Regions from separate parts of the Homo sapiens genome. Here all the other regions are linked to region 1. The links come from fine-mapping of genetic effects on gene expression. A gene starts in region 1. Each other region holds a variant in brackets. All regions are shown on one strand. Distances are between the middles of the regions. Region 1 holds the start of MFN2 (mitofusin 2). Region 2 overlaps MFN2 (mitofusin 2). Region 3 holds the start of PLOD1 (procollagen-lysine,2-oxoglutarate 5-dioxygenase 1).

What was found.
Region 2: its variant is fine-mapped to the expression of MFN2 in whole blood (INTERVAL, PIP above 0.99).
Region 3: its variant is fine-mapped to the expression of MFN2 in whole blood (INTERVAL, PIP 0.96).

What each region holds. Positions count from the first base shown.
Region 1 is chr1:11,975,237-11,985,560 of GRCh38, forward strand. It overlaps MFN2 (mitofusin 2), which reads left to right and starts at 5,208. Exons shown (of 19, transcript NM_014874.4): 1 at 5,208-5,248; 2 at 6,734-6,878. It overlaps PLOD1 (procollagen-lysine,2-oxoglutarate 5-dioxygenase 1), which reads left to right. Exons shown (of 19, transcript NM_000302.4): 19 at 1-301. RefSeq lists silencers at 4,824-5,083, 5,254-5,493 and an enhancer at 6,950-7,049.
Region 2 is chr1:12,010,098-12,018,026 of GRCh38, forward strand. It overlaps MFN2 (mitofusin 2), which reads left to right. Exons shown (of 19, transcript NM_014874.4): 19 at 1,399-3,411. The coding sequence ends at 1,468. Among named protein-coding and RNA genes, the nearest start is that of MIIP, 5.4 kb to the right of the region's middle. The variant C/A (reference allele first, on the strand shown) is at 3,631.
Region 3 is chr1:11,931,162-11,941,485 of GRCh38, forward strand. PLOD1 (procollagen-lysine,2-oxoglutarate 5-dioxygenase 1) reads left to right here and starts at 3,556. Exons shown (of 19, transcript NM_000302.4): 1 at 3,556-3,694. The coding sequence starts at 3,619. RefSeq lists enhancers at 2,339-3,264, 3,095-3,144, 3,265-4,188, 7,607-8,806, 7,769-8,661 and a silencer at 3,365-3,834. The variant C/CTT (reference allele first, on the strand shown) is at 5,690.

The DNA.
Region 1 (10,324 bases):
TTCTGCTTCAAGTTTTGGGGTAAAGACACCTGGATCAGACTCCAAGGGCTGCCCTGAGTCTGGGACTTCTGCCTCCATGGCTGGTCATGAGAGCAAACCGTAGTCCCCTGGAGACAGCGACTCCAGAGAACCTCTTGGGAGACAGAAGAGGCATCTGTGCACAGCTCGATCTTCTACTTGCCTGTGGGGAGGGGAGTGACAGGTCCACACACCACACTGGGTCACCCTGTCCTGGATGCCTCTGAAGAGAGGGACAGACCGTCAGAAACTGGAGAGTTTCTATTAAAGGTCATTTAAACCACTGAAGGGAAGATGCTCAGGGCGAGTGGGTGTGTGTGTGTCTTGGTGTGAGTGTCTGCAGGGAGAGAGGTTTTAAGAGCCCTCTTTTTTTTTTTTTTTCTTTTTTTGAGACAGAGTCTCACTCTGTCTTCCAGGCTGGAGTGCAATGACGCTATCCCCGCTTTCTGCAACCCCCGCCTCCTGGGTTCAAGTAATTCTCCTGCCTCAGCCTTCCGAGCAGCTGGGGCTACAGGCACCCATCACCACGCCTGGCTAATTTTTGTTTTTTTATTAAAGAAAGGGTTTCACCAGGTTGGTCTGGCTGGTCTTGAACTCCTGACCTCAGATGATCCACCCACCTCGGCCTCCCAAAGTGCTGGGATTACAGGCATGAGCCACCGTGCCCGGCCAAGAGCCCTCTTTTTAGAGCCTTTAAGAAAGGTCATGCTAGCCTCTCGACCCCTGAGTAGCTGGGATTATAGGTATCCATGCCTGACACATTTTTGTATTTTTTGTAGAAACGGGGTTTCATTTCACCGTGTTGGCCAGGCTGGTCTCGAACTCCTGACCTCAGGTGATCCATCCGCCTCGGCCTCCCAAAGTACTGGATTACAGGCGTGAGCCACCATCCCAGGCCTGAAAGTCTTTTAAAAAAGATTTTTGAGGCCAGGCACAGTGGCTCACACCTGTAATCCCAGCACTTAGGCTGAGGCAGGCGGATTACCTGAGGTCAGGAGTTTGAGACCAGCCTGGGCAACGTGGCGAAACCCTGTCTCTACTAATAATATGAAAAAATCAGCCGGTTGTGTTGGCATGCGCCTGTAATCCCAGCTACTCGGGAGGCTGAGGCAGGAGAATCGCTTGAACCCAGGTGGTGGAGGTTGCAATGAGCCAAGATTGGGCCACTGCACTCCAGTCTGGGTGACAGAGCAAGACTCCATCTCAATTAAAAAAAAAAAAAGATTTTTTAGTCTTTTCATTTTCAAAATTGACTCATTGTAAATTCAAACAGCACAAATCTTAATCTTTCTGTCATCCTTTCCCCCCAGCTGCTCAGTTCCTCTCTCTGAAAGCCACCATGTCTAATCTGTTTTTTGAACGTTCTTGAGCTGGTTTGTGCCGACACAAGCCTGTGTGTGTGTTTGTGTATGTTAGGGTTATTTTTGTTTTTGTTTTTGAGATGGAGTCTCACTCTGTCGCCCAGGCTGGAGTGCAATGGCATGATCTCGGCTCACTGCAACCTCTGCCTCCCGGGTTCAAGCAATTCTCGTGCCTCAGCTTCCCGAGTAGCTGGGATTACAGGCACCCGCCACCACGCCCAGCTAGTTTTTGTATTTTTAGTAGATATGAGGTTTCACCATGTTGGCCACGGTGGTCTCCAACTCCTGACCTCAGATGATCCACCTGCCTCGGCCTCCCAAAGTGCTGGCATTACAGGTGTGAGCCACTGTGCCCGGCATAGGGTTGTTTTTAACTGTTAACTTTTTTCTGATTACAAACTCATCTTCACCATGAAAAAGTCAAACAAAATAGGTAACATGGGGGGCCGGATGCTGTGGCTCACATCTGTAATCCCAGTACTTTGGGAGGCTGAGGCGGGTGGATCACTTGTGGTCAAGAGTTTGAGACCAGCCTGGCCAACATGGCAAAACCCCCATCTCTACAAAAAAATACAAAAATTAGCCAGGTGTGGTGGCAGGTGCCTGTAATCCCAGCTACTTGGGAGGCTGAGCTGGGAGAATCACTTGAACCTGGGAGGTGGAGGTTGCAGTGAGCCAAGATTGCACCACTACACTCCAGCGTGGGTGACAGAGCAATAACCTGTCAACAACAACAACAACAAAAAGTAATATGGACCGGGTGCAGTGGCTCATGCCTGTAATCCCAGCGCTTTGGGAGGCTGAGGTGGTAGGATCACTTGAGGCCAGGAATTCTCAACCAGCATGGCCAACATGGCAAAACCCTGTCTCTATTAAAAATACAAAAATAAGGTGGGCTTTATGGCACATGCCTGTAAACCCAACTACTCAGGAGGCTGCAGCACGAGAATCGCTTGAACCCGGGAGGCAGAGGTTGTAGTGAGTTGAGATTGTGCCACTGCACTCCAGCCTGGGTGAGAGAGCAAGACTCTTGTCTTAAAAAAAAAAACAAAAACGTAAGAAAGAAAGGTCTCCTGGAGTTGTACATCAGTGTGCTCTGCACCCATTCCCAATAACACTCAGCACTGCTAGGAGAGTTTTGTCATCCCGAGGGTTGAAACGAGGATTCAGCCATCTCAATGAGAAACACATGTTAATGGGTTGAAACATATCTCCAAACTGAGATTTCCTCTACTTGCTGGGCAAGTATGCAGATGTGTTTCAGAGATAAAGCCCAGCTGCTGGGCAGAGTACAAGACTAAATGCCTGGGAATGGATTCAGAGGTTCCTACAGCAGTCCAGGCAAGTGACCAGGACCTAGACCAATGCTTGCAGGGAAATTTAGGGAAGAGGAGGGAGTGGGCAGGGGAGATGTTTAGGAGAGAGAACATCCAGGCTTTCACCTGACGGGCAAGATTCTGCTAAAAAGGAAAAGGAAGGCTGGGCGTGGTGGCTCACACCTGTAATCCCAGCACTTTGGGAGGCTGAGGCGGGTGGATCACCTGAGGTCAGGAGTTTGAGACCAGCCTGGCCAACATGGTGAAACCCCATCTCTACTAAAAATACAAAAATTAGCCAGGCATGGTGGTGCACGCCTGTAATCCCAGCTAGTGGGGAGACTGAGGCGGGAGAATTGCCTGAGGCGGAGGTTGCGGTGAGCCAAGATGGTGCCACTGAGCTCCAGTCTGGGCAACAGAGTGAGAGCGAGACTCTTTCTCAAAAAAAAAGAAAAAAAAAAAAAAAGAGGAAATGGAATTTATAGTTCCTGCCCTCAGAGAATGGAAGTGGAATTTAGAGTTCCTCTCCTTAGGGAGTCCAGAGATTGTGGAGGAGGAAACAATCCGACCCAGTACCAGGCAGCTAGCAGCTGAGGCCCCAAGGCACGCTACATCCCAGACAGGGCCCTGTCTACACCCTGAGGCTGAGTCTGCGTGTGGCCCCACAGTCCACAGTCAGACCCGCGGGGCACTAGGCTACTCAGAGGGCAGTGTGGGCAGGACAGCTCCCTTTGGCCATCGTCATGAGACTGATAAACCAGTCACTTCTATATCAGAGTACTGATTTGCCTCTTGAGGTTGTTTGTGGCAATAAATTGAGGTTGTTCTACCATGGTTATAGAGCAGCACCATCCCACAGAATTACAGTTTGACCCACAAATGCAAGCTACTTATGTAATTTTAAATTTTCTAGTAGCGACATTTTTAAAAAGAAACAGGTGCAATTAATCTTAGTAATGTATTTAACCCAAATGACCCAAAATATTATCACTTCAACATGTAGTCAGCATATAAATAGTAATGGGCTAATAGCCCTGCACTGTGGCAGGTACCTGTAACCCGGCATTTTGGGAAGCCGAGGCAGGAGAAGATTGCTTGACTCCAGGAGTCCAGGAGTTCAGGACACCAGCCTGGGTAACAAAGTGAAATGCTTCCCCATGTCTACAAAAGATAAATACTAGGCATGGCTGCAGCATCTGTGGTCAGCTACTTGGGAGGCTGAGTGAGGTGGGAGGATTACTTGAGCCCAGGAGTTCGAGGCTGCAGTGAGCCGTGATTGCACCACTGCACTCCAGCTTGAGTGAGAGTGAGACTCTGGCTCAAAGATAGATTTTTTTTTTCTTTTTTGAGACGGAGTCTCTGTTGCCCAGGCTGGAGTGCAGTGGCATGATCTCGGCTCACTGCAACCTCCACCGCCCGTGTTCAAGCGATTCTCCTGCCTCTTCCTCCCGAGTGCACTATCATGCCTGGCTAATTTTTGTATTTTTAGTACAGACGGGGTTTCACCATGTTGGCCAGGCTGGTCTTGAACTCCCGATGCACCCGCCTCGCCCTCCTAAAATGCTGGAATTACAGGCTTGAGCCACCGCGCCCGGTCGATATTTTTTTTTCCTAAAAATTGAGATAGTTTAACAGCCTTTTTTGTCCTAAGTCTTATAGCGCATCTCCGTTTGCACTGGCTCAGGACTCGAGAGCCACACGTGGCTAGTGCCTACTGTTCTGGCGCGCTCAGGCTTGGAGCCTTCTCTGCGGAGGCCAAGTCCTGCAAGGGATCTGTTTGCTGCGGTTTCCTAGTAGTGTCTGCCGCATCACTGGGGCCCGGTGATCTGGGTAACCATGTGAGCTTGGGTAACCTCTCCTCTCCCTCTCCTGGGACTGCTGTGGACGTTAAATACAGCGGTGGATGTTAGAGACGCAGTTCAGTCACTGGCATTGATTCGCCGTTGTTGCTGCTCTTCTTTCCTCAAAGGCGACTGAAGGGCAGCAGGCCCATGCTCGCTTCTGTCTGCCCGATGAGTCACTTCACCCTAGGCCTGGCCCTCTAGAGAACACTCCTCTAAGATTACAGAATGCAAATCTGGATTCCAGAGCTGGCAGAGGCCCCAGGGTCAGGCTCTAGGACAACCGGCGAAAAAGCGGGAACCTCTACTCCACGCCCTTGGTTTTTCGCCCCTTGACAGCTTGAGGCTCCGCCCCGCTTTGCCCCGCCCCCCCAGCTCCGGCCGACGCCCACCGGAACTACAGCCCCCATGATGCAGTGGGAGTCCGAGCCTCTGCGTCGTCCGCTTGGGACGCGCCGGCGGAGGAGTGGCGCGCGGAGGAGTGGCGCGCTGAGACGCCGCTCGAAGCGCCGAGTCGCGGGGCAGCAGAGGCGTAAGGAGTAGGCGGGGCGAGCCGGCTGGGCTCAGGGTCCACCAGCTCACCCGGGTCGAGGGGCAATCTGAGGCGACTGGTGACGCGCTTATCCACTTCCCTCCTCCCGCCTCCCCCTGGGGTGGCGCTCGCTGGTGACGTAGTGAGTGTGATGGCCGCCGCGAGGCCGGGAAGGTGAAGGTGAGAGGGCGAGCAAGCCGGGGTGGCGGGGACTGGCCCGGCCCGGCCCGGCGAGTCCTGAGCAGCTCGGCGTGGGCCGACGGGATTCTGGGGCCACGGGGGTCTGGGATGCAGTCAAGCGGGGTCCCCACTCTCCGGCCTCGCCGCCGGGCCCTCCCCGGCCCTGAGAGGAGGGGGCGGGCCACGGGACCTGGGACTGGTCGGTGGGGTCCCCTGTAGCTTCTCATCGCCCCCGCCTTTCCACCCTTCACGGCCATGTTCTACCCCTGCCCCTTCTCTATTTTTCATCCTGTCTTCATTTTGCCAGCATTTACTCAGCACCTGATAGGTGTCCACGTTCACCGCGGGAGCGCCCTGCCATCCCCACTTTGGGCAGTTACTGCCTTCTCGTTCAGCCCTGTTTACTTATATGACTTCTCACCGGACTGTAAGGCCCTGGAGGGCAGGACTGTTTCTTATCCATTTCTAACGTGGCGCCTGACACACACAGAGAAGGCACACAGAAAATGTTGAATAAATAGCTGTTAAGACGCACGAAGGCAGAACTGCCCGTTACCCCCTCTCGTAATCCTTCATTGCCCTCTTTAAATTCTCAATCATCTCTCTCTCTTCTACCCAGAAAAGGGCTCTGGTTATCTCTTTTCTACCCAGAAAAGGGCTCTGGTTATCCGCCTCTGGTGTCCCAAGGTTTGGGGCTTGGGGGAGGAAGGCAGCTCAATGTAGTTAAAAAAGGAAGGAGGCCGGTCGCAGTGGATCACACCTGTAATCCCAGCACTTTGGGAGGCTGAGGCGGGCGGATCACCTGAGGTCAGGAGTTGGAGACCAGCCTGGCCAACATGGTGAAACCCCGTCTGTGCTAAAACCAAAAACTAGCCGGGCTTGCTGGCACACGCCTGTAATCCCATCTACTCAGGAGGCTGAGGCAGGAGAATCGCTTGAACCCGGGAGGCGGAGGTTGAGCCGAGATCGCGCTGCTGCACTCCAGGAGCTTTGGAGTCAAAGGGAGCTAATATTTCAGATCCCAGCTTAGACAAATCTTCAAGTATTCCAGCCCTCTGTCCCACAGAATAGAGAATTAAGTGAGATACTTTACAGTAGCTGAACACATTGGCTTTCAGTCAGTTCTTCTGTTCCTCAATAGTCAGCTGTTCCACAGTCCTCAAGCCCAGTTTTGTTCCTAGTTTTGCTCTGTCCTCTTCTCCCCTCTCTGGATGTACCTTTCCCAGGGCTCCTGCAGGGACCTCCGTGGTGCCTCAAACCCGCACATGGCGGAATACGTGTGCACAGTCAGGATTGGTCCCACACCTCTGCGTTTTTTTCCCCAGGGCACTTCCTCACATGCCAGCGCAACTCCCCAATACCTCAATGAGTAAGCTTCCCTCAGGGATGAGTTTGTTTGGCTTGAAACCTGATTAGACATGTTTTGTACACCAGTGTTTTTTTTTTTTGGACACCGGATCCATCTCCCTTTTCTTTTCTAATAAGTCAGGACTGGTGGAGTCAACACAGTCAATCAATAGCCAACCTCAACCTGAGACAGGACAGAAGAGAACTCAGAATCTTTTTGTCTTTTGGACTTCAGCCATGTCCATGATGCCTACCCTGTGAAGATCTCTCACCATCCAAAAAAGTAAGTAGTAGCTGTGACTTCTGGCACCCTGGATTTGAGCTGAGTGGACAGGGGTGTGCTCTCCTGGACCTCTGGTGGCAAGTCTCTTGAATGGCATCCTCTTTGTATAGAGCCACAGCTTTCTAACTTGTGTTGAAAAACTACCGTATCTTTTACTTCCGTGAAGGATTTCGCTGGTTGCTTAGAGAGCCTGTTTAAAAGTTGACAGTTCAGAAGTGGCTGGGATCTCTTGGGCTCCCTGAAGAGTTAGTCTCTGTCTCCCTCATTTGGTCTCTGCTGTGCTGGCTCTTCCCCATCTCGGCCCAGCACAGGTTGGCTCCTTGTCACTGCTCTTTTAAGACTCTGCTCTGTCCCCTTTACCCTGTATACTCTTTTTGTTTCGATTTCTCAGCTTCTCCTCTTTTCCAGTTGTGCCAGCAGACGATCCGTGGATCCATTTTATTTTCCCTGCTAGGAGTTGCTGTACATAACACTGGGTAAGGAGGTGGTGTGGATTCAGGGACTGTGCTTGGGATCCAAACACACCTTGCAGTGAATTTTGCTACTGCTGTCTCTACACCCAAGATACCTAATACTCCTCAACGAATAGCCTAGGTTGAGGCAAAGCTGTTGACCACCTTGGAGGGCTAATAGCAGTTTCCATTTAGAACTGGGTTCATTTCTGGTCTTAGGTTAATATTTATTAATACTGTGCCCTGGCACTTTTTAGGGGTAGGGGCAGGAGAGTACCAGAAAGAGTGGGCTTTTCCCTAAAGTGTGATCCTCGGGATTTTAAAAGCTATTACACAGAAGGGTTTTTTCATTGATTATATTTGTGAAATGCTGAATTCAACACAGTTAAACTAGTGTCTTTACAACAAGGCTTCCTTCCCAAACTCTTTTGCTGTGCTCACGTGCTCCACTGAGGAAAATGGTAGCATATGGTGTTTTTTGTTTGTTTGTTTGTTTTTTGTTTTTTTTGAGACAGAGTCTTGCTCTGTCACCCAGGCTGGAGTGCAGTGGCGCGATCTTGCAGTGGCGTGATCTTGGCTCACTGCAAGCTCTGCCTCCCAGGTTCACACTATCCTCCTGCCTCAGCCTCCCGAGTAGCTGTACTACAGGTGCATGCTGCCATGCCTGGCTAATTTTTTGTAGTTTTAGTAGAGATGGGGTTTCACCGTGTTAGCCAGGATGGTCTCGAACTCCTGACCTTGTGATCTACCCACCTCGGCCTCCCAGAGTGCTGGGATTACAGGCGTGAGCCACCGCGCCTGGCCTAGCATATGGTGTTTTACAAACTGATTCTACTATTGAACCTTCTTTACATGGGATATTGGGTGCAAGTCGAGTTCTGTGGACCACGCTTTGGGAAGTGCTGCCAGAAACTATCCAAAACAGTAATCTCCAGAGCACTTATGAGGCAGTCACAGCTTGAAGTGTGACGCTTAGTGTGTCACTGATGTTGGAGCTGGGCTCTCAGGCTATGCTTGCAGGATGGTCCCCACGTGCCTGTGGCAAGGTCTGTGGTGAAGCAGAGATTATCAAGGCTTTCCAGAGGCAGAGGAGGAACCCAGCTGCCCTGCATCACCCTGGAGGAGTAGGGAGTCAGCAGTCAAAGCCTTGAGATAATTGGGGAACACAGGATGTGATAAAAACCAGAAGTCTGTGATGTTGTTTGTTCTCTATGAGGCATCAGAGGAGGCTTCATGGAGCGGGTGACACTTGAGTTGGGTCTAGAAGGACAGTAGGAGTATGCCAAATGGGTGGAAAAGGAAGGAGGATTCCAGGCAGAAAGCAGCTCATGCAACACAGATGTGGAATCTCAGCTTGCAAGTTAGCAGAGCCAGATAAATCAGGCAGAGTTTGGAGGGGTTGACAGTAGGTTTTACGCCAGGGGTTTGGATGCAGCTGCAGGCTGGGTATTAGTGAGAGCAGGGAGGCTCCTGGACCGGCTGAACTCCCAGCAGACCTTGTAACCTGGAGCTCCCAAGCTTCTACTGGTGTACACGCTGTCGAGTCTTGCAGTTAGTGAGCACTAATGCTTTTGGTTTTATATCTCCTGGGCTTGCAAACATTGACCAGAACTTAAAAGCACCTGCTTCTGATGGCAGGGAACTTGCTTCCTGCAGCAAGTCACTTCTGGAGTGGGGTATCGCTGATCCTTCCCCAGCTGACCTGTTTATTTGATCTCCGTGATAGCGGGTAAGGGAGTGGTGTGTGTGGTGTGAGTTGGCGGAGTTGCCTCTGCCCTCCCTGAAGGCTGGGTGTTCATGGAGAGAGTCTTGTGATCTTGCTGGTAGAGTTTGTTGTTATTGTTTTATAACATGTAAAGCTGCCTTTAGCTCTTACTGTAGTGAAGCATGTTGCTTGCGTCATCAACTTTAGTCTTCTCACAGTTTAGATGGTATTGTGGTATTAGGATATTGGTTTTCATCCACGGATCCAGGCTCATAACTCCTATCCACAGCCCTTGTTATGGTTTTTTGATATAATGTTAGATGTGTTAGGCCTCAGGGGCAGGCCTCTGACCTTCTGCTCTCCTTCCACCCTAATCTTTCCCCACCTGATTGTGGGCCTTAAAACCCTCCCCTGAGAGGGGTGGACCCTGTATCCTGGGGGAAGGAATGCTGATGTCATGAAGCTTCCATAAAAATCCAAGAGGACAGAGTTCAGGGAGCTTGTGGATAGCTGAACACACGGAGGTTCCTAGAGAGAGGCCTGCTCAGGGAGGGCACAGAAACTACACGCCTCTTCCCCCATACCTCGCCCTAAGCGTCTCCTTATCTGTATCCTTTGCGATATCCCTCATAATAACCTGGTAAACGTAAGTAAGTGTTTCCCTGGGCTAGGTAGGCTGCTCCATCAAATTAATTGAACTCAAAGAGGGGGTCATGGGAACCCCAGCCTGAAGCCAGTCGGTGAGAAATTCTGGAGGCCCAGACTTGCAACTGGTATGTTTGAGGGGTGGTGGTGGAGAGGCGGGGCAGTCCTGGGGACTGAGCCCTCAACCTGTGGGATCTGACACTCTCTCCAGGTAGACAGCATGGGAACTGAATGAGAGGATACCCAGCTGCTGTCCGCTGGTTGGTGTGTGGGGAAGAAACCCCCTCACATTTGGTCACAGAAGTCTCTTGTGTTGATGATTATGGTGTGAGAGTAGAGAAAAAAGATAATTTGAGACAGTTTCTCTCTCCAGTAGGTGTCTTGTTTGTTGTACACATGAAGAAACCAAGGTTCTGTGATGAAATAACTTGCTTAAGTTTAAGCAGCCCAGAAATAATGTAGTCACAATTTGAACCCAGCTCTGCCTGATTACAAAACCTGTCATAGGTAGTGCTATATCATGCCCCATCCTTGATCCCTTTTTTTTTTTTTTTTTTTTTTTTTTTAAAGAGAGAGACTTCGCTCTGTCACCCAGGCTGGAGTACAGTGGCGAGATCTTGGCTCACTGCAAATTCTACCTCCCA
Region 2 (7,929 bases), 34 kb after region 1:
GAGCCGAGATTATGCCATTGCACTCCAGCCTGGGCGACAAGAGCAAAACTCTGTCTCAAAAAGAAAAAAAAAATGGATGTGTACCACGTACCTCATGGATGCCAGATGGTGCTGGAGGCTCAACAAGACACAGCGTCGCTGCCTTCAAGGCACTTGCAGTTGAAGGCATGATGGCATCACAGTACTGCGAGACTGCAGTTCACAGCGCCCTGTGCTGAACCGCAGGGCCTACAGCGCTTAACATGTGCTATTTCACTCAGTCTTCCCTATTTCTCCATTTTCTACATAGAAATGTTGGGGAACTTGTCTGGCATCTCAAAAAATGGCCAGGCTAGGAGGGGAGCCCAGGTGTACTTGGCTCCAGCAGCCCCCGCACTCTGATTCTCCTTACCTGCCACTCTTTGGACCCATGAAGAGGGCATAGCCCCCCATTTACCCACAGAGAAGCTGGTTACTTGGCTGGGGACTGGCAGAGCTGGGATTGGAACTCAGATCTCCATGGGGTCTCTGTGGAGCTTTCATTAATAATTTGCTGGAAAGAACATCAGTCTGAGGAGTCTGGAGTCCTGGGTTCTCTCCAGCCACTCATGTTTGGCCCAAGCTCTTAACTCTCCTGTGTCTCATTATTTTCATCTGTAAAATGGGAGTAAGATTTCATGACACAGCTGCATGACTGAATGTAAAAGTGCCCTGCAAAAGTCCTCGGCCTGCCCAGCTCATGATAACATCAGCACACGGGGACCCTGCAGAAGTCCTCGGCCTGCCTAGCCCATGATAGCATCAGCACACGGGGACCCTGCACTTCCTGCCCTCGCCCCTGACGTCAGAGTCTGCAGGGTGGCAGAGCCAGAGGGGAGATGGATCAGAGGGTGTCAGCTCCAACCCTCACCGGATCACTGGGCTTTCCCTGCCCTCGACTGCGGATGTGCCCCCCCCGCACCCCCACCTGGGGACAGCTGCTTCCTAGGGACACACTGCTTGCCCTCTGGGGACTCTCAGAAAGGGGGAATGGGGGGAACTGCTGCTTGTCAGCCACAGTGACACAGCTGAACCTGGAAAGGGTCTCCTGTCAGCACCTCAACCCCTTGCTTGGCAAGCAGGGAAACTGAGTTCCCGACAGCTCAGGGACTTGCACATGGTCCTGGGTGAAGGAAACACAGGGCTTGAGAATCAGAAAAGCCTAACTTGTAGCTCCCTGGCTTATTAGCCGTGTGGCCTTGGGAAGTTATTTAACCCCTCTGGGCCTCCTTTTCCCCATCTGTGAGACAGGGATAAACACGATTGTTGGAGGATGATGTAAGGGTGTGTGTCAAGCGTCCTTAGGATGGTGCCTGGCGGGTAGTCCTAATACTGCCTATCATCAGCTATCATGGTTACAAAAGAACCATTTCTTTGCAGGAATAAAGCCGGTTGGTTGGACAGTGAGCTCAACATGTTCACACACCAGTACCTGCAGCCCAGCAGATAGTGGGCACCTGAGGCGGAGTCTGCGTGGAGAGGGGCGGTGCTGCCAGCCCTAAGTGCCATGTGGGCTCCCCCAGGGGCACGTGTGGCTCCTGCCCCCTGGCCACTGCCAAGAGAATGAAGCACCCAGTCTCGTACCATTTTGAGCCCTCCAGCACTACTTATTTTCCCCCACCTTTGCCTGCTGTTGCTGGAAGAGCTGGCTCATACCCCCAAAGGACACTTTCAGCGACAGCTATGGACAGCATGGTACCAAGGAGTTAAGTTGAGGCTTTTTCCAGCTTTCTCTGGTTCATTTGATTGCTTGATAAGGCCTCAGGATCTCAGCATTGCACAATGCCTCATGGAAGCCTTTGAGGGTATCACACAGACACCCCCACCTTCCTCCAGCCTGTGCGCACCTGCCCTCCTTGCAGCCCAGCACACCTGCAGGTGTAAGGGACGATTGGAGTTTCTTCCCAGAGAGTCTGTCCCAGAAGGACTGTGGCTTGTGTGTGTCCATCTCGCCTGTTGGCTCAGTGCTTCATCCCATTTGCAGAGCCTCAGACACGTCTTGGTGGTGAGGCTCAGTTACCCCTGGGCTTAGGCTGAGGCGGGCCCTGTGCTGGGGGTGGTAGAAAGGATGCTGCTGAGGCAGCTGGAGGAGTGGGAGTAGCTCAGAGGGGAGGGCTGTTGGATGTATGGGGAGCTGGCAGAGCAGGTGGCAGTCACTGGGACAAGGAGGGACTTGCCTCTCTTCTCATTATTGTGTCCTTTGCTTTAGTGTCAGTCCTGGACTTGTGCAGGCCTGTTTTGTGTAGATCTGTTTTGGAAGATGGCATGGTCTAGGTGGTTGAAGGATGTAGTAGAAGGATGGATGGTGGAAGGTGGGGACGTTGGTGGCTGGCTGAGGTGCATGGGCCCCACACAGGACAGCTGGAGAATGGGCCGTCCACTTGGCCTCGTTCTGCGAGGGGCTCATGGGTCTGAGAGCCCCCACCCACTAGGCTTGATTGCATCCCTGTTGTGCCCTTTAAGAGACATGTTTCCACCCCACCCCCAACCTTGTCCCAAGTGCCCTGGACTAAATTTCCTGTGCCAGTGACTGCAGTTGGCCAAGGGACAATGTGGAAAACCCAGTGTCCATCTTTCCACCCTCCCTGATCTCCAGAACCTTCGACTGACCCCCTTGTCTTTATGCTGATGTTGAGTTTTGGGATTGTTACTGGTTGAAGTGGGGGCAGATGCCTGTCACCAAGGTGTTGACTGTGTGAGAAAAGCAGTTTGGGTGACAAATCCTGTGTGGCACAAGTTGGATCGCTTCCTAGAAATAAGCAACACCTCTCCCAAAAAGCAGCCCACAAGGCAGGGGCCCAGCAGCCCAGCCATCACTCATCTTTGAGGAAATGAGTTGGTAGCCTCTGTGCACTGTTTGGTGGCCACATCACAGGTGATGTCCTGTTCACATACCTGCTTGTATTTAAAGCCCTCAGTCTGTCCTGTTGTGTGGGGCGAAGTGATGGACTCTGCCAGGTGGACATGCTGTGGGTGGATGTTCCCGGCGTGTGCCGGGCCTGAATGGACAGGGGCCACTTCACAGCATGTCAGGGAAAATCACTGTCACACAATTCCAATGGATTTTGTGCTCTTTTTGAAAAAAAAAAATTCTTTAGCGTAAACATGAATTTTTTTTCAATGTAGCCCCTGGGGAATGAATGAAATTTTGAGCTTCTTCAATACGTAAAATTAAATTTATACCACTGAGGGAGAGACCCTTTCTGAAAGAAGTATGGCCAAAAGCACTTTAATGCTGCTGACATTGTTGTTTTTATGTTCATTTGCTGGAGCGCAAGACGTGCTGACACAGTGAGTTTTCTCTGATGTATTTAAGGTGATGTATTTGCTTGAGTTACTCCTGTATCATTGCTCATAATATTGGAAACTAAAATAAAACCTAGTTGGAAATCCTTTGTGAGATCTGTCTTTTTGGGTTCTTGTACAAACTCCTCTTTGACATGGCCAGCTGTATTCTGAAGTGACCATAACTTTGGGGAAGTTCCCACTATAATCTGGCTCCTTATTCTTGGAAGGAATTTGATACTCTCAAAAGAACAGATGGTTTAACTGATCTTTAAGGATCAGGAAATCGAGACTGATTTCTTTACAGATTTCTCTGTAACTCCAGAC[C/A]ATTTTTCACTTAAAAAGTAAATGACTCACTGTTCCATCCTGCTTTGCCTTCTGAGAATTTGGTTGCCACTATTCTTTTTTTTTTTTTTCTTTTTTGAGATGGAGTCACGCTCTGTCGCCCAGGCTGGAGTGCAGTGGCACGATCTCGGCTCGCTGCAAGCTCCGCCTCCCGGGTTCAAGCAGTTCTCTGCCTCAGCCTCCCAAGCAGCTGGGATTACAGGCGCCGACCACCAGGCCTGGCTAATTTTGGTATTTTAGTAGAGACAGGGTTTCATCATCTTGGCCATACTGGTCTCAAACTCCTGACCTTGTGACCCACCTGCCTCGGTCTCCCAAAGTGCTGGCATTACAGGTGTGAGCCACCGCTTTTTTTTCTTTTTTTTTTTAAGGGTCCTCAGGAGTAGATACAGGGGTAGTCAGTCAGTTTCCCCGCCCCTACAGCTGTCCTCTTGGCTCTGGTGCTGCCCAGTGTCCGCCCTGCTCGCCCACAGAGGCCACAGCTCAGCTGATAGCAACCTCATCCTTCCAGATTCCCAGGCTACACACTTGGGGCATCACCCTCGAGTCCACGGTCACACGTGCTGCACCAAATCTGTCACCTGCTGTCTTCCAAGTCTGTTGACCCTGCCCAGTTTCCTCACCTCCATCATAACCATCAGCCCGGATCTAGGTTCCTGTTCCTGCCTTGTCCCCGCCTATCCTCGCCATCTTGTGGCTGTTTCAAGGCAGCAGCCAAAGACTTTCTCAGGTAACAAAAAAAAAATGAATCATTACCTTTTTTTTTTTTGCAATCCACAAAACAAGTAGTTTCTGTCATTAACAAGATGTTATGTACAACCCACTAAATTGTTCACGACAGCATCATCCCGGGTGATGAGCCATAGTTTGAAAAAGGGCCTTCTTGCCTTATGCAAATGCTGCTTAGTTATTCCCAGTCAAGGCCAGCCTCATTCCTGTGCTTTCTCTGACTACCTCATCTGTCCACTGGCGAATCTGAGAGGCTGGAAGTTTTAGCCCTCTGGTAACAATGTCCCTATTTAATCACAAAAAGTAGGTAGTCAGGAATGTTCCACTGTGTCCCAAGCACTGGGGTGACAGCCCAGGCAGCTCTCTCGGAGAGCATCTGGCTTCATAATGTGGCCTCAGAAGCAGGGCCCTCCTCGCAGATGTCAGCTAAGTTGTTCACCGTGTCCTCAAGTGGATGGTTTCCTGTGTCTAAGTGGGACTCTTAGGCTTGAGATAAGAACAGCGAACTTTGAGAGTTTAGTATGTCAGACATTTCATACGCATGAGCCCTAATCTCAAAATCCAATGGTCTATTTTCCCTAATTTCCTCAAATGAGGAAGTTCATTAATTCAGCAAAATATTTGTGCACTTACTATGTGCTAAGCATGGTTCTAAGCACTGGAGATATAGCAGTGACTAAGGTGGATAAAAATCTGCCCCTGGGGCCAGACGCGATGGCTCACGCCTGTAATCCCAACACTTTTGGGAGGTGGGCGGATCACGAGGTCAGGAGTTCAAGACCAGCCTGGCCAACATGGTGAAACCCCATCTCTACTAGAAATACAAAAATTAGCCAGGCTTGGTGGCGTGCACCTGTAATCCCAGATACTAGGGTGGCTGAGGCAGGAGAATTGCTTAAACCTGGGAGGTGGGGGTTGCAATGAGCCGAGATCACGCCATTGCGCTCCAGCCTGGCAACAGAGGGAGGCTCCCTCTCAAAACAACAACAACAACAACAAAAATCTCACTCACTGATTAGTAACCTTTTTCAGTTACAAAGAAAAACAACATACTCGCTAAACTCCCTAACATCAGGAGCCATCAGGCAAATTATCTCAAGTCTTGATTTACAAACCAAACCCTTATGCCTCTGATTACACAGGGGACCGGTCTGACAAACTTTTTTTTTTTTTTTGAGGTAGGTTTTTGTTGGCTGGAGTGCAGTGGCGCAATCACGGCTCACTGCAGACTTGACCTCCCAGACTCAAGTGATCCTCTCACCTTAGCCTCCCGAATAGCTGGGATTAAAAGTGTGCGCCACCATGCCCGGATAATTTTTTGTTTTTTTGTAGAGACGAGGGATCTCACTATGTTACTCAGGCTGGTTTCGAACTCCTGATCTCAAATGATCCTCACACCTTGGCCTCCCAAAGTGCTGGGATTATAGGTGTGAGCCACCATGTCTGGACACAAATATTCTTTTTCTTTTTTTAATTTAATTTTTCAAATAGAGAATGTATGTTGGCTGGGCACAGTGCCTCATGCCTGTAATCCCAGCACTTTGGGAGGCTGAGGTGAGAGGATCGCTTGAATTCATGAGTTTGAGACCAGCCTGGGCAATCTGGCAAAACCCTGTCTCTACAAAAAATACAAAAATTAGCCCAGCATGGTGGTGTGCACTGGTAGTCCCAGCTATTCCGGGGGCTGAGGTAGGAGAATCACTTGAACCCAGGAGGTGGAGGCTGCAGTGAGCCGAGATTGCATCACTGCACTCCAACCTAGGCAACAGAATGAGACCCCGTCTCAAAAAAAAAAAAAAAAAATAGATGGGATCTTACTGTGTTGCCCAGGCTGGCCTCTAATTCCCAAGCTCAAGTGATCCTCCTGCCCCAGCCTCCCAGAGTGCCGGAACTACAGGCATGAGCCATCACACCCAGCCAATAAACATTCTTTTCTGATAAGCAACTGCAGAACTTAAGCCAGTTTCAGCCAGCTTACAGAAGCTGTGAACAACCTGTTTAGCCAATGCACATGAGCTCACCTCCTCTCATAAATATGTATACAGCTTTTCCCTCAAACCTGCTAAATATGTATGAATATGGGCCCTGTGAGGCATAAAACCCAACCTGTCCTTTCTCTCTTGGAAGAGAGCACCTTCAGTGCATGCTGCAAACCATCTCTTCCTGGTTTGCAAACAAGTATCAACAATAAAGTGCTCCTTTCTACTATTTAGCCACCCTGGTGATCTTCTAGACAACATTATGCGTATTTCTGCTAGGAACATTAGTGTTCAAATCTCTGTGTAGGCAGATGTTTTCATTTTTTGTAGGTAGATATCTCAGGCTGGACTTGCTGGGCCATATGGTAAATTTATGTTTAACTTCTACAGATTTTGTGAAGTGGTTATACTGTCTTATATCCCCACCAGTAGTGAATGTGGGTTCATATATATATATAGTTTTTTTTTTTTTTTTTTTTGAGACAGTCTTACTCTGTCACCCAGGCTGGAGTGCCGTGGCACAATCGCGGCTCACTGCAACCTCCGCCTCCCAGGTTCAAGCCATTCTCCTGCCTCAGCCTCTCGAGTAGCTGGGATTACAGGTGCCCACCACCACACCCGGCTAATTTTTTTCTATTTTTAATAGAGACGGGGTTTCACCATGTTAGCCAGGCTGGTTTCAAATTCCTGACCTCAACTGATCCGCCCGCCTTGGCCTCCCAAAGTGCTGGGATTACAGGCCTGAGACGTCGTGCCCGGCCTCATTTCATTTTTTAGAGCATCACAAACTACCTCTCCAGCTCATCTTGCTAGAGTTACTGCATAATCCATGCATTCCTGCCAAGGATCAGCCATCTTCTTGAGTCGGAGGGCTTCCTGCTAGCTCGGTGCCTGGTGTTATCACCCTCGGCTCTTCTGGAGGTAGAGGGGCTACCTATCTTCTTTTCATTCTTTTTTTTTTTTTTTTTTAATTTGAGACAGAGTTTCACTCTTGTTGCCCAGGCTGGAGTGCAATGGTGCGATTTTGGCTCACCACGACCTCCGCCTCCCGGGTTCAAGCGATTCTCCTGCCTCAGCCTCCCGAGCAGCTGGGATTACAGGTATGCGCCACCATGCCCGGCTAATTTTGTATTTTTAGTAGAGACGGGGTTTCTCCATGTTGGTCAGGCTGGTCTGGAACTCCCGACCTCAGGTGATCCGCCTGCCTGGACCTCCCAAAGTGCTGGGATTACAGACGTAAGCCACCGCGCCCAGCCAATTTTTGTATTTTTAGTAGAGACGGGGTTTCGCCATGTTGCCCAAGCTGATCTTGAACTCCTGACCTCAGGTGATCCACCCGCCTCGGCCTCCCAAAGTGCTGGGATTACAGGCGTGGGCCACTGCGCCCGGCCCCAGTTTTTCTAAGTTATATAGTTTAGGTTTCACAACTAGATCTATGATCCATTCTAGGTTAATTTTTGCATATGGGTTTCTTTTTTTTTTTTTTAGGATGAGTGTGTGGATATCCAATTATACCTACAACATTTGTTGAAGACACCATCTCTTCTTGTTTTCCCAAGTTTCCACACACATT
Region 3 (10,324 bases), 44 kb before region 1:
CTCCTCCTGGCATTTCCTCTTCCTCCAGGGGTCTGGAGTCTGAGTCTGCATCCTCCTGAATCCAAAACATCCGGTGGATTCTGGCACCAAGTCCTGTCTCCAGATGCTGAAACTCCCAGCCCTGGATCCCAGCTGGGAGGTAGGGGCCCTGGATTCTGCTCAGGCCTCTTCCTTTTACTTGCCTTGGGACCTTGAGCTTGCTGCCCCATGCCTATGGATATCACTTGTGCTATCTGTGCAATGAGCACATCTCCATACAATGAGATGATTTCCACACAATGAGATGATTTCCAAGGTTCCCAGTGACTGACTCTATCTTTGTTTTTTTAATAGAGATGGGGGAAGGGTTTTGCTATAGTGTCCAGGCTGGTCTGGAACTCCTGGGCCCAAGCAGTCCTCCTGCCTTGGCCTCCCGAAGTGCTGGGATTACAGGCATGAGTCTCTGTGCCGGCCTGGACCTATATTCTAAAAATAGCATGTATTGATTTTGTTTGAATATATATATATATTTTTTCAAGACGGAGTTTTGCTCTTGTTGCCCAGGCTAGAGTGCAATGGTGCGATCTCGGCTCACTGCAATCTCCGCCTTCCAGGCTCAAGAAATTCTCCTGCCTCAGCCTCCCAAGTAGCTGGGATTACAGGAATGCGCCACCATGCCCAGATAATTTTGTATTTTTGGTAGAGACAGGGTTTCTCCATGTTGGTCAGGCTGGTCTTGAAATCCCGACGTCTGGTGATCTGCCTGCCTCCACCTCCCAAAGGGCTGGTATTACAGGCATAAGCCACCATGCCCCGCCGATTTTGTTTGAATTTTACAAATAGTATATATTTATTGAAAAAAAAAGAAAAATATAAATAACAAAATAAATACTTGGAAATAATATAAAACATCAAAAATTGTCTATATAAATATGAAATAATCCCACAACCTGGAAATAATCACAGTAAATATTTGGCCATAATTTTCTCCTAGCATTGTCTCTATGCATGTATACATCGATAAGAATATATTTTTGGCTGGGCGCGATGGCTCACGCCTATAATCCCAACACTTTGGGAGGCCGAGGCTGGTGGATCACGAGGTCAGGAGTTCAAGACCAGCCTGGCCAAGATGGTGAAACCTCATCTCTACTAAAAATACAAAAATGAGCCAGGCATGGTGGCAGGCACCTGTAATCCCAGCTACTCGGAAGGCTGAGGCAAAGAATTGCTTGAACCAGGGAGGCGGAGGTTGCAGTGAGCTGAGATTGTGCCACTGCACTCCAACCTGGGCTATACAGTGAGACTCCATCTCAAAAAAAAAAAAAAAGAAGGTATTTTTACTGAGTGGAACCATACTATATATTCTGCTTTTCCACTTAACATCATATGGGTAGTGTATTTCTCTGGCTGCAGCATCTGAATGCTATTTTGTTTTTATTTTTATTTTTTGGTTTGTTTGTTTTTTTTGAGGCAGGTTCTGACTCTCTTGCCCAGGCTGGAGTGCAGCGGTGTGATCATGGCTCACTGCAACCTCCACCTCCCGGGCTCAAGTGATCCTCCCCAGTCAGCCTCCTGAATAGCTGGGACTACAGGCACATGCCACCATGCCCAGCTAATTTTTGTTTTTTTAGTAAAGAAGGGGTTTCACCATGTTGCCCAGGCTGGTCTTGAATTCCTGGGCTCAAGCAATCTGGCTGTCTTGGCCTCCCAAAGTACTGGGATTACAGGCATGAACCACCGCACCCAGCTCATCTGAATGCTGTTGATTTATTAATATCTTTTCCCAGCACAGACGCATAGCCTGCTCTTTGTCGTCCATTGACATTCGTGACATTCCTTCTCTCCCACCCCTTTGCCCCCTGCAGGGAACCCCCTGCCAGCCTAGGGTTACACCTGCCACCCACTCCTCTGGAGCCTAATCAGCTGGGAGAAGGCTCCTGGGTCCCTGTCTAAGGTCTTTTTTTTCTTTTTTTTTTTTTTTGAGACAGAGTTTCGCTCTGTCGCCTAGGCTGGAGTGCAGTGGTTCAATCTTGGCTCACTGCAAACTCAGTCTCCTGGGTTCAAGTGATTCTACTGCCTCAGCCTCCTGAGTAGCTGGGATTACAGGCGCGCGCCACCACGCCTGGCTAATTTTTGTATTTTAGTAGAGACAGAGTTTCACCATGTTGGTCAAGCTGGTCTTGAACTCCTGACCTTGTGATCCGCTCGCCTCAGCCTCCCAAAGTGCTGGGATTACAGGTGTGAGCCACCGTGCCCGGCCTCTGTCTGAGGTTTCTTCCAAGGAAGGAAGGATTTTTGTTCAGAGGTGGCTGCCCCTGTCTGACATCTGGTCCAGGAGCCCTTACTCTAGAGACCGTTGAGTTGTTTGTTGGGCTTTGGGTATCTGTGAAGAGGCCCTAAAAACTTTCATCGATTCGTTTACTCATTTAACAATTAATCTCTCTAGGGTGTGGTGGCTCAGCCTGTAATCCCAGCACTTTGGGAGGCCAAGGCGGGTGGATCATCTGAGGGTGGGAGTTCAAGACCAGCCTGACCAACATGGAGAAACCCCACCTCTACTAAAAATACAAAATTAGCTGGGCATGGTGGCACATGCCTGTAATCCCAGCTACTCGGGAGGCTGAGGCAGGAGAATTGCTTGAACCCGGGAGGCGGAGGTTGCCGTGACCCCAGATCTCGCCGTTGCACTCCAGCCTGGGCAACAAGAGTGAAACTCTGTCTCAAAAAAAAGGTAGAAAAATTAGCCAGGGATGGTGGCTCAGGCCTGTGATCCCACCTACTTGGGAGGCTGAGATGGGAGGATCGCTTGAGCCCGGGAGGTCGAGGCTGCAGCAAGCGGTGATCACGCCACTGCACTCCAGCCTGGGCAACTGAAAGCAACCTTGTCTCAAAAAAATGAAAAAAAAAAAACAAAAAACAAAAAAACCTCAGAAGCAAGACTTTCCTTGGCTCAGAGGTTTGCCTCCCAGGGACACAAAGGGAGATCAAGTGATTGCCTTTTGGGGAGAGTGGAGACGGGCTTCCTGCATTTCCAGTGCCTGGGTGGGCCACGTAGGGGTGTCCGTGTCTCTGAACGCATCCGTGCCCACCCTCACCCCTTGGGTTTTGGGAAGGACTAATGAAATCATGAAAACTGACTTCCTTGGGGCTTGACCTGGGGCTGCTCTAAGTGCGCTACAGGTAACGCCATTAACCCGTGCAAGACCCAATGAACAGACGCTATCATAAGCCCCACTTTTCAGGCGAGCAAACAGGGGCTCGTGGCTATCGATGCCATGGAGCCTTGGCCCAGAACCTGGGGTCTAGAAATCGTGGCCTCTCTCTCCTCTCACCGCCCTCTTTCTGGTCGGAGTGAACCCCCCAGAGAAGGGAGGGAGACGGCAGGGCCTGACGGAAGCCCCGGGAGCTGCACAGAGAGGCGGAGGGAGCTGCCCTAATAAGGAGAGGCCCGGACTTGGGCATATCTGCAGAAAAACCCTTCCCCACTAGGCAGGCGCGGGGGAGGGCGTGGAGGGGCGGGGTGGTGCCGCCCCCGGGGCGGGCCCAGTGCGTGGCAGCGGGACCTGCGGCCCCGTCGCGAAGTTTCCAGCCCTGCGAGCGCCGCCGGGTCGGCCGATCGTCCCCCATACCTCGGCCATGCGGCCCCTGCTGCTACTGGCCCTGCTGGGCTGGCTGCTGCTGGCCGAAGCGAAGGGCGACGCCAAGCCGGAGGGTGAGGGAGCGAAGGCCGGGGGCGGGAGCGCGGATCCGGGCGGGAGGGCTGGTGTCGGGCTGCCTCCCTGGGAACGACCTGAATGGGAGGCCTGGGCTGGAGAGGGAGTCTGGGTTCCGGCTCCTTGTCCACTTAATCGCTGGTGACTTGAACAAATCACTTCCCCTCTTGGGGCTGCGGTTCCTGCTTCGGGAAGGAAAGGGTGACAGCTGAGTCCCATTCAGCACAGAAAGGCTCAAATAATAATAGTTTTCATAATAATAACCGACAATGGCTATTCTGCCCAGTGCTCACTATGGGCCAGGCATCAGTTAGGCATGATTGCTACCCTGGTAAGTGTTTCCTTCTATTATCCCCGTTTTCCAGCTGGGCAAACTGAGGCTCCAGAGTTCATTCACTTGCCCAAGATCATACAACTTGTGGGCCTTGGAACCAGGATTTACCCCACCCACCCAGGTGTCTGGTTCCAGAGCCAGGAGGCCTCATGACCATGGGAATGAGGGGTCTTGAGGGGGACAGGGGAGGAATGGGGGTAGAAGGTGTGGCTCACTTTGTGGATAAGTTTGTGCTTTCATCCATGTCCCCTGTGGTCTGCTTAGCCCCTGCCAGGGTGGTCTTCCTCTCTGCAGTTTATTTTTTTTATTTTACTTAATGTATTATTTATTTAGTTATTTATTTATTTTTGAGACAGAGTCTTGCTCTGTCGCCCAGGCTGGAACGCAGTATGCGATCTCGGCTTACTGCAACCTCTGCCTCCCAGGTAAAAGCAATTCTTTTTTTTTTTTTTGAGATGGAGTCTCGCTCTGTCGCCCAGGCTGGAATGCAGTGGCACAATCTCAGCTCACTGCAACCTCCACCTCCCAGGTTCAAGTGTTTCTCCTGCCTCGGCCTCCCAAGTAGCTGGGATTACAGGCACGTGCCACCATGCCTAGCTAATTTTTGTATTTTTAGTTGAGATGGGGTTTCACCATGCTGGCCAGGCTGGTCTTGAACTTCTGACCTCTTGATCCGCTGGCCTCAGCCTCCCAAAATGTTTGGATTACAGGCGTGAGCCATCGCGCCCGGCCGGTTCAAGCGACTCCTGTACCTCAGCCTCCCAGGTAGGTGGGATCACAGACATGTGCCACCATGCCCAGCTAATTTTTGTATTTTTGGTGGAGATGGGGTTTCACCATGTTGGCCAGGCTGGTCTTGAACTCTTGACCTCAGGTGATCAGCCCACCTTGGTCTCCCAAAGTGTTGGGATTACAGGCGTGAGCCACCACACCTGGCCCTCTCTGCAGTTTATACTTGAGGAAACTGAGGCCCAGACAGGTGAAGTGACTGTCCAGGGTGGTCCAGACAGAGGTGGTTGGTCCGAGGTCAGCTGGGCTCCAGTCTAGCGCTCTTTCTACTTCCTCAAGGCAGATTGGATTGCAGTGTGTGCCCCACTGTCCTGAGTGGGTGCTTCCCTCCTCCCCAGCCCTCCCTGGCATGGGCCATCTCCAGGGCTGTCCCGAGAAGGGCATAGACTGCGGACAGTCCCAGCAAAGCCAAGCAGAAGTGGCGGTACTTTCCATGGCATTCTCCTCCTTCAGCTTACCCTCCTGGAGAACCTGAAACTGTATCACCAGAAGGATCCCGGGTTCTTTGGGTCAGGAATGGGAACCACCATTTATTTTATTTTATTTATTTAATTTTTTTTTGAGACAGTGTTTCACTGTGTCCCCCAGGCTGGAGTGCAGTAGCATGACCTTGGCTCACTGCAACCTCTGTCTCCTGGGTTCAAGCAATTCTCGTGCGTCAGCCTCCCAAGTAGCTGGGATTACAGGCCTGCACCACCACGCCCAGCTAATTTTTGTATCTTTAGAAGAGACGAGGTTTCGCCATGTTGGCCAGGCTGGTTTCAAACTCCTGACCTCAAGTGATCCTCCTGCCTCGGCCTCCCAAAGTGCTGGGATTACAGGTGGGAGCCACTGCACCCAGCCAGGAACCACCATTTCTTTTCTTTTCTTT[C/CTT]TTTTTTTTTTTTTGAGGCAGAGTTTCACTCCCGTTGCCCAGGCTGGAGTCCAATGGTGCGATCTCAGCTCACTGCAACCTCCGCCTCCCAGGTTCAAGCGATTCTCCTGCCTCAATCTCCCTAGTGGCTGGGATTACAGGCGGATGCCACAACGCTCAGCTAATGTTTGTATTTTTAGTAGAGACGGGGTTTCACCATGTTGGTCAGGCTGGTTTCAAACTCTTGATCTCAGGTGATCCGCCTACCTCGGCCTCCCAAAGTACCGGGATTACAGGCGTGAGCCACCGCGCCCGGCCAGGAACTGCCATTTCTTGAGTACCTCCCTCGGACCAGGTTGTGCCCAAGGCCCCACGTCTCCCAGTGGTAAAGCCGGCGGTGCTTGCTCTCTGTGAGGCTTGGTGTTCTAGCCTGCAAGACCCGGTGATACTACCTCACGCCTGGAGCTCTAACAAGAATTCCAGGGGATGAAGTTGGGGAGAGTTCAGCTCAATGCCTGGCCCATGAAAGGCCCTCGGCAAAGGGCATTTTCTCTCCCAGTCCCAGGGCTGCTGGCTTACAGCAGGGCAGTAAGACAGCTCAGAAAGTCCAGTGATGGAAACGCTGACCACCGGGCTGTGCAAAGGGCTCTCGGCCTGGGTCCCCTCACTGGCCAGGAGCCCTGTTGTGGCCTAGTTTTCTGGGCCTTTGATCCCCCTGCTTCTGCTGACATGGGGTGCCTGCATCCCAGACCATCCCAGGAGAGAAACCGCAGCTGCCCATGATGAAGCCCGGTGAGTTGAATTGAAGAGGGACCAGACTGATGACAGGGCGTTAGGCACCCTGATCCCCAGCAAGTGACAGGAGGAGGGCAGAGCAGATCCAAGGAAGCCTTCACAGAGGGTGCTGCTATGGGCGGAGGACAGGATCAGTGTGCTACTGAGGTAACCCAGGTAGAGCACCTGGTAGGTAGAAAGCACATCTGTGCTCACTGATGCACAAGAGAGCAGATCCCCAGGCCTGGGGCTAATGTCAGGCCAGTCTGAGTTGGGCCCTTTGCTTCCCTTCTCCATTTGGATCCCTCCCTGTTTTCCATTTTTTTTTTTTTTTTTAAGTTTTCATTTTCTTTTTTTTTTTTTCTTTGAGACAGAGTCTCGCTTTGTCGCCCAGGCTGGAGTGCAGTGGCACGATCTCAGCGCACTGCAGCCTCCACCTCCAGGGTTCAAGCGATTCTCCTGTCTCAGCCTCCCAAGTAGCTGGGATCACAGGCATGCACCACCATGCCTGGCTAATTTTTGTATTTTTAGTAGAGACGGGGTTTTGCAATGTTAGCCAGGCTGGTCTCAATCCTGACCTCAAGCGATTTGCCCACCTTGGCTTCCCAAAGTGCTGGGATTACAGGCCTGAGCCACCACGCCCGGCCAGGATCCCTTTGCTAAGTAAGAAATCATCAACTCCATTTTGGAGATGGGAAGACTGAGGTCCTGGTAGGTTAAACATCTGGTCTCTCATTGCCAGAGCTGGTTGGAGGTGGGGTCATTGTCTGGAACTCAGACCTACTGTTCATTTCTGCACCTCTGGACGGGAAGGGGGTGCTGTTGCCTGGAAATGCTGCCTGGGGGAGCCTGCTCAGCTCCCCCAGACCCAGCTGAGGTGTGACCTTTAGCCAGCTGGACAGGAGGACAGAGTGGGTTGCTCATCTTCCCTGCAGGTCTTGCCTGAGCATCCCACTGACTAGTGTGTGTGTTTGGTGGGGGGTACCCCAGCAGCCCCCAAAGAGGCCAGCTCTTCCCTTTCCCTGGCAGATGGATGGGAGGAGGCAGCTACTGAGGTGGATTCAGCTGGAGTAGGGAAGGGGATTTGCTGTGGAGTCTCGGGGAGTGAGATGGGTGGGGTGCTGTCAGCAGCTTGTCTGTCCCCTCACCCAAAACGCATGGCCTTGGTGCATGGAGAGAAACATGGACCGTTTTCACTTTTGGGGGCTCCCAATGAGAGGGGGGTACAGAGCACCTCACTTCAGTAGACACCCCACGTCTGAGGGAAGAGATGTTGCGCCATCCTGGGGGGGCTTCCAGAACAAGATGGGAGACACAAGAAGGCTTCAACAAAGCAATATCTTCCATCACAGGGAACTGGGAGAATAAAAGGCAACATCCAAACAGGCAGATATCCCTAGAGCCGAGGTCAGATGTCCCACAGCCCTTCCTCCCGTTTGTAGAAACTTCTAGCAGATCTCCAGCTCCTGCCTTTCCCTGTGGGCCTTGATTTGGCCGTGGTGAGAGAAGGACAGCTGCAGAGATCAGAGGCTCAGCTGGCCGTTCAGGTCATGCTGTTCCCTACTAGAGAACAGAAGGGTCCCAGGAGTCAGTCAGGCTGCACTGGATGGTGTGGGGGTGGGGCCGGGTCTGGGGAGACCTAAGTGGGCAGCTGGCCCCGGGGAGGCTAAGGTTGGCTCCCACGTGCAGGGCATCCCAAGCTCCTGCCAGACCCTGTTCCTGGCTTCAGTTCAAGCCTGGGGTGGGGATGAAGGATGGGGGAGGGGAGAGGGCGGAAGGGCTTCATTCATTCCCGCCTCCCCAGGGAGCAGACTGGGTGTGTCATGACTGTGCCTTGACTCAGGCCACACAGTGACCACCCACGCCTTGGGCTGGGACTGCTTGGGGAGGAGGGGGCATCCGGTGGCACAGTCAAACCAGGGGTGCCCAGAGGTCCCATTCTTCCAGGAGCTCATCACATACGCACACCCCAACCAAGCCCTCACCGTCAGTCTCTCCACATCATTCTTTTTCTTTTTCTTTTTTTGAGATGGAGTCTCGCTCACCTAGTCTGGAGTGAAATGGCATGATCTCAGCTCACTGCAACCTCTGCCCCCTGGGTTCAAGCAGTTCTCCTGCCTCAGTCTCCCGAGTAGCTGGGATTACAGGCGCCCACCATCATGCCCAGCTAATTTTTGTATTTTTAGTAGAGATGGGGTTTCGCCATGTTGGCCAGGCTGGTCTCGAGCTCCTGACCTCATGTGATCCACCCGCCTTGGCCTCCCAAAGTGCTAGGATTACAGGTGTGAGCCACCGCACACATCATTCTTCTCTTAAAAGTTTTTCTAAATTTTATTTTTTTGTACAGACAGGGTCTCACTGTGTTGCCCCGGCTGGTCTTGAACCCTCAGGCTCAAGTGATCATCCCCACCTTGGCCCCCCAAAGACCGGGATTACAGGTGTGAGCCACTGCACCTGGCTAATTCCTGTGGCCCAGTAGCATGACTATAGCTCACTGCAGCCTTCACCTCCTGGGCTCAAGCAATCCTCCTGCCTCAGCTTCCTGAGTAGCTGGGCCTAGAGGTGCGTGCCACCATGTCTGGCTAATTTTTTAATTTTTTGTAGAGACAGGGTCTCACTTTGTTGCACAGGTTGGTCTTGAACTCAGGGCCTCAAATAAGCCTCCTGCCTTGGTCTCCCTAAGTGTTGACATTACAGGTGTGAGCCACCCCACCCTCTGCATCATTCTTGCTCTCAGGAAGGCAGCTCCCCTTTATTCCTGACCCCCAGGGCAGCATCTACCAAGACACAGCTCCCCTTTAGGGGAGGCACCCTGTCGCCAGAACCCCCCCGCAGCTACCAAGGCAGGCACTGTGCCAAGCGCTTTACGGCATTGGCTCATTGAATCCTCATGAAAGTCTCTGGAGGGAGGTACTATCATCTGTATTATTCCCATTTTACAGATGAGAAAACTGAGGCACGGAGAGGCTAAATTCCCTGCCCAGCAATCTGTCTTTAGCACCCTCTCTGTTGTATCTCATTGATTTCTGCTGATCCTGGATCACGGGTTCATCTGGGGAAGTCATTGCTGGACTTTGGGCAGTAGGTGGGGAGGGCTGAGAGCTCTGGGTGCCAGGCCTTGGCCTTAGCCCAAGGCAGCTGGCTGGACCAGACAGAAAGCAGATGGGAGGGGCCTTGGTACTCGAAAATGAATCTTCCACATCCATGCCTTAAGGGTTTCTCTGGCCTGGCCTAACAGTGAGCTGGGAAAAGACCTCACCACGTGACTGCAGTTGGGTGCTTGTGCTGCAGAGGCCAGAGAGAAGGCACTGGAAGCGCTGGCTTTTGTCTGCAGCCAGGAGTCTGGCATCTTAGGATGTTGGGCTCTTGGACAGGGAAATGAAGACAAGAGCATGGGCATTTAGAATTCCAACTCATTCCCATTTCACCTAAAGGTTCTGTGACTTTGGGTCAGGTATTTAGCCTCTCTGTGCCTCGGTTTCCTCACCCGAAGAAGCAGTGATAAAAATATCACCTTCCTCGTAGAGTGTTGACCGTGAAATAAGATAATGAATGTAACATGCCTCATACAGCACACGGTATCTCACCGGGTTCAGTGGTGGTAGCTGTTCCTAAAAGTACTTTGTTTGTTTGTTTTGTTTTTTGTTTTTTGTTTTTGAGAGGGAGACTTGCTCTGTCACCCAGGCTAGAGTGCAGTGGCACCACAAAAGTACAAAAGTACCTTCCATGTTGCTGCTTTTTTTTTTGAGACAGAGTTTCACTCTGTCACCCGGGCTGGGGTGCAGTGGCACAATCTTGGCTCACTGCAACCTCTGCCTCCTGGTTTCAAGTGATTCTCCTGCCTTAGTCTCCTAAGTAGCTGGGATTATTATTATTATTATT